2 linked regions of the Homo sapiens genome follow. The protein of the gene in region 1 interacts with the protein of each later gene in a pairwise test. Each region holds a gene or a part of one and is shown on either strand. Other genes may lie near its edges.

The links.
Region 2: the proteins of DHRS13 (region 1) and KIFBP interact in binary tests that used the Homo sapiens proteins (3 or more experiments, as listed by UniProt).

What each region holds. Positions count from the first base shown.
Region 1 is NC_000017.11:28,900,720-28,904,847, reverse strand, and holds the start of DHRS13 (dehydrogenase/reductase SDR family member 13 precursor), read left to right. Parts: upstream 1-1,768; 5' UTR 1,769-1,903; coding exon 1,904-2,030; intron 2,031-2,146; coding exon 2,147-2,265; intron 2,266-3,231; coding exon 3,232-3,355; intron 3,356-3,546; coding exon 3,547-3,858; intron 3,859-4,128. UniProt on the Homo sapiens protein: Putative oxidoreductase.
Region 2 is NC_000010.11:69,005,803-69,009,402, forward strand, and holds part of KIFBP (KIF-binding protein), read left to right. Parts: coding exon 1-113; intron 114-1,095; exon of another isoform or gene 1,096-1,949; intron 1,950-3,038; coding exon 3,039-3,123; intron 3,124-3,600. UniProt on the Homo sapiens protein: Activator of KIF1B plus-end-directed microtubule motor activity. Required for organization of axonal microtubules, and axonal outgrowth and maintenance during peripheral and central nervous system development.

The sequences.
Region 1 (4,128 bases):
TCCAGGAAGTTTTCCTGAGGTCAGCCTCCTCAGATGGAGAGCACCTCTGTGTATATTCCAGCACTGTTTGTGTAGGTGCATCTGCTTGTGTGTCAGGATTTTGCCTTAGGGATAGAAAATGAATATTCTACCCCCAGCCTCATCCCACAGCATCTACAATGGAAACCCGAATCCGCAGTGCAGCTAAATAGGAAACTGGCCCTGGAATCTGAGGTCTGTCCCTGACTTTCATCTGCCCATGCAGGCGTCATCACTCTGCTCCCGGTGCCCTAATGGGCTTTTTGAACTCCCTAAGGACAGAAACTTGTATATCTTCCACTCGGAATTTCCAAGTCTAACTACACTGCTGGGCACACCATAAGTGCCAAATACCAGGTTCTAAATTGTACTGAATGTATCAGGCAACGGCCTTCTGCCCTGGAATGGTCTTACCCATTTGTTCCTAGCCAGCCCCACCCTTCCTGCCATCATGGTCACTTGTAATTGAGTGATGGAGCTTCTCTGCCTGTCTCTTATCACCTATGAGAACCATTCCAAAGGCAAATTTCCTCCTGAAAGGCAATAACAGATTTTACTCTCTATCTCTTCCTGCTTCCCTTCAGCCATGGAAGGCACTAGTGGGGTTGAGGTAGGGAGATACAGAGGGGGAATGAAGGAGTGAATTCTGACACCCCTTAACTGCCTGTGCCACCTTTAACAGTGTCCTCTCTAGCCTGTGTGGGGAGAACACGGAAGAATCCTAGAAGCTGGGGGCTGGATGTGAAGATAAGAAAACGAAGGATTTGGCCCAGTGCAGAGGCTCACACCTGTAATCCCAGCACTTTGAGAGGCTGAGGCAGGTGGGTCACTTAAGGTCAGAAGTTTGAGACCAACCTGGCCAACATAGTGAAAACCCTTCTCTACTAAAATACAAAAATTAGCCGGGTGTGGTGTCACACACCTGTGATCCCAGCTACTCTGGATTCTGAGGCAGGAGAATTGCTTGAACCCGGGAAGCGGAGGTTGCAGTGAGCCGGGATCACGCCACTGCACTCCAGCCTGGGCAACGAGAGTGAAACTCCGTCTCAAAAGAAAGAAAGAAAGGAAAGAAGGAAGGAAGGGAGGGAGGGAAGGAAGGAAGGAAGGAAGGGAGGAAGGAAGGAAGGGAAGGAAGGAAGGAAGGAAGGAAGGAAGGAAAGGAAAGGAAGGAAAGGAGAAGGATTTGTGCAGAAGGGAAGGAAGGAGAAGGATTTGTTCTTAGAGGGAAAAGCATCTAGGACTAGACTCAAAGACACACGTGTATTCATGTACACACCTAACTTCAGAAGGGAGGGACTGTGCTACATACACCTCGAGTAAACATATGGAGATATGCAAGCACATGCACTGGCAGAGACTACAGATGCAGGCACATACCTGGAGGGACTCTGCCAGAATGCACACAAACACCTACAAGGTGCTTACAGGAGCTCACACACAGGATCCAGAGGCACGCACACAACCCAAAGGGTGATCCTCAGGGACATGGGCACATACACACCTAGAGATCATTCACATACAAGCGTTGCAGATGCATGCACATACCTAGCGTGCACTCACAGGGTGTACGTGGACACACACACCCAGGAGTTCACACAGGCACACACCTAGGGGGCGCTCCCAGGGCCCAAGCGCACACACTCACCTCAAAGGTGTCCACAGAGGCACACGCCCCCAGGACGCCGACGCACGCCTAGGGGGCGCTCGCAGGGCCGGCGCGCACCCGCACGCGCACACGCCCCTGCCCAGCCTCCTGCCCGCCTCCGCCTTCGGAGGCTGACGCGCCCGGGCGCCGTTCCAGGCCTGTGCAGGGCGGATCGGCAGCCGCCTGGCGGCGATCCAGGGCGGTGCGGGGCCTGGGCGGGAGCCGGGAGGCGCGGCCGGCATGGAGGCGCTGCTGCTGGGCGCGGGGTTGCTGCTGGGCGCTTACGTGCTTGTCTACTACAACCTGGTGAAGGCCCCGCCGTGCGGCGGCATGGGCAACCTGCGGGGCCGCACGGCCGTGGTCACGGGTGAGTGCGGAGGCGGGTGAGTGCGAGCTGGCGGGGCGCGCGGAGAGGAGGCCGGGCCGGCGGTAGCAGCGGCCCGCCGGGCTCAGCTCAGCTCGGCTCCCGCCCGCGGTCCGCAGGCGCCAACAGCGGCATCGGAAAGATGACGGCGCTGGAGCTGGCGCGCCGGGGAGCGCGCGTGGTGCTGGCCTGCCGCAGCCAGGAGCGCGGGGAGGCGGCTGCCTTCGACCTCCGCCAGGTGAGAGGCAGCGGGGGCGCGTGGGACGGTGAGCCGAGAACCCGCCGGGACACAGAGAAGCCAGCAAAGGGGCTGCGGAGGATCCGGGTCCAGGGAGGAGAGCGCGGCGCGGGCGGCTGAGCGCGAAGAGGGAGTGCACGGAGCGCTGGGGTCACCCGAGGAAGGCGCACCAGAGCCGAGTGGGGGAGGGGCTTCCTGAAGGCCGTAATTGCAGTTCTGAGACGTTTAAGCATCAGTAGAAGTTGGGTTAATGATCAGTAGGAAAGGGAACAGCAGAGGGCACAGCATAAGCAAAGGCTCTGAGGCAAAGAGAGCTGGACTGATCTGAAAAACTGAGAAAAAGATTTAATGAGGCTGGAGCACAAAGTATGAGGAAGATGGGCAAATGAGGGGGCTGGAGAACATTCTAGAGCCTATTGAGAAGCTTGGATTTTATAGATTGGGCAGCAGAGACCAGTGGAGACCATGAACAGCCCTCAGTAGGCTCCGGACTGTCAGAATAGCCTTTGGAAGGAACTCCTTTGTGGCTGCGTGGTGCCTGGAGTGGGGGGGCAAGAGCGGGAGAGAGGAGACCAGTGAGAAGTTACAGATTTTAGGGTAAATGGTAATGGGGAAAGGAGGTGATAATAATAATAGCAAGTACCTACCCAGTGCTGCTAGAGTGTATTTTACACGTTAACTCCTTTCATCCTCACAAAAGCTCAGTGAGATTGGGACTGTTGTTATTATTATTCCCTTTACGCAGTGAGAGAACTGAGACCCAGAGAGATTAAGTATCTTGCCCAAGGTCACACTTTAGTAAAAGGCAAAGTCAGGATTTGAATCCACACACTTATCTAGTACACTCTAAGACACAGGGGCAGATTTTAGTAAACAGTAGGAGATGGACTCTCAGAATTTGGTGCCTGGGGAGAGGGAAGAGGAGAGAGATGCCTGGTGACAAGCCCAGCCCTTGCCTCTCCACAGGAGAGTGGGAACAATGAGGTCATCTTCATGGCCTTGGACTTGGCCAGTCTGGCCTCGGTGCGGGCCTTTGCCACTGCCTTTCTGAGCTCTGAGCCACGGTTGGACATCCTCATCCACAATGCCGGTGAGGGGCAGCAGGCCCTGCGTGGGGGTGGGGTGGCGGGTGGCCAGGGGCAACTGCCCCCTCCAGCGGGGGCCCTGCTGGGGCCAGTGGACACATGGGAAGGATGCCCCCTTCTCCCATCTCATAGATAGGGATGCCAAGGCTGCAGAGCTCCTTCTGGAGCAGCCGCTCACATTTAGCCTCTGCCCCAGGTATCAGTTCCTGTGGCCGGACCCGTGAGGCGTTTAACCTGCTGCTTCGGGTGAACCATATCGGTCCCTTTCTGCTGACACATCTGCTGCTGCCTTGCCTGAAGGCATGTGCCCCTAGCCGCGTGGTGGTGGTAGCCTCAGCTGCCCACTGTCGGGGACGTCTTGACTTCAAACGCCTGGACCGCCCAGTGGTGGGCTGGCGGCAGGAGCTGCGGGCATATGCTGACACTAAGCTGGCTAATGTACTGTTTGCCCGGGAGCTCGCCAACCAGCTTGAGGCCACTGGCGTCACCTGCTATGCAGCCCACCCAGGTGAGGTCTGGTTCTTTGGCTTCCGATTCCCCTCTCCTTTCCTTGCCCCATCCTGTGCCCCCCACACCACTACCGCCTCCCCACCCTCCATCCCTCATTGAGTCACAGAATCTCAGGGCAGCAAGGAAGCATAGTCCAAGGAGAGACCTGTTCCTTGCTGCTCTTGGAACCAGGTTCTCCTGGTTTAGGTTCTTCCTCTCACACCACAAGCCTGGGTCCTCAGCCCTGGGGGGTATATGGCCATGAATAAGACCTGGATTCCCACCCCCA
Region 2 (3,600 bases), on another chromosome or scaffold:
AGGCTGCTCACTATTGCCATAGTACACTAAAACGCCAGCTTGAGCACAATGCCTACCATCCTATAGAGTGGGCTATCAATGCTGCTACCTTGTCACAGTTTTACATCAATAAGGTAAGCTTCTTGAAGTAGTTATCTAACAGAGTACCAATAGTGAGTATAAAAATAGAACCAGTAGTACCTTGAAAATACTATCTTTTAAAAACAGGTAGCTTGTATTTTATGATGTACAACTGAAGCCGAAAATGCAGCCCAGTTTGCCCGTGTACTAAAATTTTGTAGCTTTTTGTTGTATGAATTATTTTGAGTTTTAAAATACCGAGTTTTATCATTGTTTTACATGTTACCTAAGACCAATTCTTTTTTTAACATAGGCACGCTATCTCAACTCATTTTAGTGAGATATTACCTTAAATTGCAGATTTTACCTTGTAGATATAGCTTTATCTTTACGTAATGGTAATCTCATAACTCTGAGAATTTGACTGAGGAAGTTGACTGTTAAATGTGGGCTTTGATAAAAGCATGTGATGCATTTCAGTTATTTTTCAGAATTAACTCTGTAATAATTTTTTAATGTTGGAAATATGTCTGCTGAGTTCCAAAGTTCTAGGTCTTTATACCATACTTCTTTTGGATTGTTACACAGGGACAATGTTTTTGAGCTTCTTAGTTGTTTATCAGAATTTCTCATAAAAATTTAAAAAAGCATTGCTCACATCATGTTGGTGTACTCTTAATTGACCCATTTATTCCTTTAATCCTTGAGAGTTTTTAATGCTAAAATAATTTTACACCACCTTTTCTAACCAGATTTTCCTATTAATCCTTAATAAGACATCTCAGCAATATAAATTACTTTTATTTATATTTCGAATTCGCAAGCCTCTCTGAAATTTTGGTAGTTCTCTGCTTATCAGAGTTCCTTCTTTCATCTCTCTGGTAACCCGCTGCCTTATCCTTGGGCCTTTATCCTTTTTGAGCATTTCGTTAGCGTTGGTTCTGTAAATGCGCCCGATGATTAAAGTATTGTCCCACAGAATTTCATTCAGAAAAGCTATTAGCAGGAGAGAAAGGGCTGTGGTGACTGCAGCATCGCTTCTAGGACTTTGGTCTAAGATCAAGTGTGTAAGTAACGCTACTGCATATATCAGAGCATTCAGTTAACTAATTCTCATGAATCCATTTCATTGTCCTCATCCAAAGTGTTATCCAGTGCCTCCGCTTGTGACATCTTTTTTACAGCTGTTGGAGGCCCCTTATTCATTCTGTTTAGCAACTTTAAAATTACATATTCACTGTGACTTTAATTTATACTTAAAACTCCATGGAAATTGGCAGTACTAAGATATCTAGATATTAAAGTGTGATTAAAATTTAAAGTTGTTAAGCATTACTTATGTGGAGCATGCAGTAATTTTCATGAGACCTCCCACACCCTGCACTTTTATTTTTTTACCAAAATCTTTTTTAAGTTTTTGTTAAAACCAACTAAGTCGTATTGCAAAAAGAGGGATTTGAACCATGTTTTTAAAAATGCAATTGTCATTTATATCATTGTCATCTTCATCTGATTCCAGTGATGAGGTTTTGCTACTTGGTGAATCCCTACCTGGCAGCTGCTAAAGTCCCACATTTACCAGCCACCTAGAGGGCATAAGACACTCACTGTTCTAGCAGTGGTTGCTCACAGGGAGCCAATCTGGACAAAGCTGAAATGACGATAAATGTTAAGGGATTGGATTATAGAGAGATAATTAAAGTTTCATTATATAAACTCTAACTTTCTTTTGGCTTTTAAGATTTAACACATTTTTATCTATAGATGTTGCTGGGCTAATACTACACGTGTCCAGCTATTCTCAAGATGGCTTCTGAATTTGCCATAATGGAAAGATACATTTAATGCTGCAATTTTAAAGTTATAGCCAACCATTTAAAGCCTTTCAGGTATTACTAATATTAAGTAGACATTCTATTTAATGAGGGTGGCTTCCAACTAAAAGTTGGACTTTAACTTTGAACTTCTGCTGGGTGGTCCTTTGACTTACATGACAAATACAAAATGTTTCTATTAACAAGGAGATCTTCTCTAATTGTTTGAGAAGTTTGCCATGCCCGGAATTGAATTATGAAGTCTTCAAGAGTGTTGGTAAAGCAGTTCCATAAGGTTCATCTGTAGAAGTCTGTTGACTTTAAAACTTGGTGGGAAGCCTTATTGTATGTAAAGTTTAAAGATTTTAGAACACAGGAATATCTTCTTACCTGAGTTTATCCTATTTGCCTTTGTATAGTAGGATGTAAAGGGGCTCTCTAAACCTAATAAAAATTAAATCCTCAGGCTGGGCAAGGTGGCTTACATCTATAACCCCAGCACCCTGGGAGGCCAAGGTGGGAGCATTGCTTCAGGCCAGGAGTTGGAGACCTGTTTAGGCAACATAGAGAAACCCCAGAATTAGTCAGGCTTGGAGGCTAAAGGTGGGAGGATCCCTTAAGACCAGGAGGTTGAGGCTGCAGTGAACTATGATTGTGCCACTGCACTCCAGCCTTGGGCCAGAGTGAGACCCCTGTCTCGTAAAAAAAAAAAAAAATATATATATATATATATATATATATATTCAGTCTTCTGACACAATGTAAATAGTCTAAGAATTTATTGTGCATGGGATTTTGGCTACTTAGACTGAACCTAAAGGAGTTTTTGAGACAGTTTAAGTCTAGGATGACAGCCATTCCTGTATATCTATTGATTGTATAAGGAGAGCTAACTTTCAGTTGGCAGTTGTCTTTCAATCCGAGTGGATTATTATTAAGAGTTTGGGGGCATTAATATTTTAACCTTTGAGGTTACATTTTAACCAGATAATATGATAATATATCTTTTGTACCTTCTGAATGATCTGCAACTCTACAGGGCCTCCTTTGTAGTATTTTTATCTGATTTTATACCTTTTCCCATATTAAAAGAAATTATGCAAGTATCAGTTGCAAATAAAGCTGTGTGATAGTTGCATTCACTGTTGTTTATTTCCCCAATAGCTATGCTTTATGGAGGCCAGGCACTGTTTATCAGCTGCTAATGTCATTTTTGGTCAAACTGGAAAGATCTCAGCCACAGAAGACAGTAAGTTTACCTTTGCATGTTTTACATAGCTTTTAAAAAAAGTTTTATTTTGAAATTATTTTAAACTTTTGAAAAGTTGCAAGAACAGAAGAGCTATCATATGCCCTTCTAAATGCACCAATTTTTAGTATTTTCCTCGCTTGGAATCAAATTTTATTTTTCTCTCTGAACCATTGGAGAGAAGGTTACATACATTAGGCTCTTTTACCCTTTCATACTTTAGTATATATTTCCTAAGAAGAATATTTTCTTACATAATCATAGATCATTTATCAAATTCAAGAAATGTAACATTGGCCAGGCATGGTGGCCCACGCCTGTAATGCTAGATTTTGGGAGGCCAAGATGGGAGGGGCCAGGAGTTCAAGACAAGCCTGATCAACATAGTGAGACCCCATCTCTATGTTTTTAAAGAAATTAAAAAAAAAAAAGTAACATTGATACAATTCTTTTATCTACACTGCATATTTCTATTTC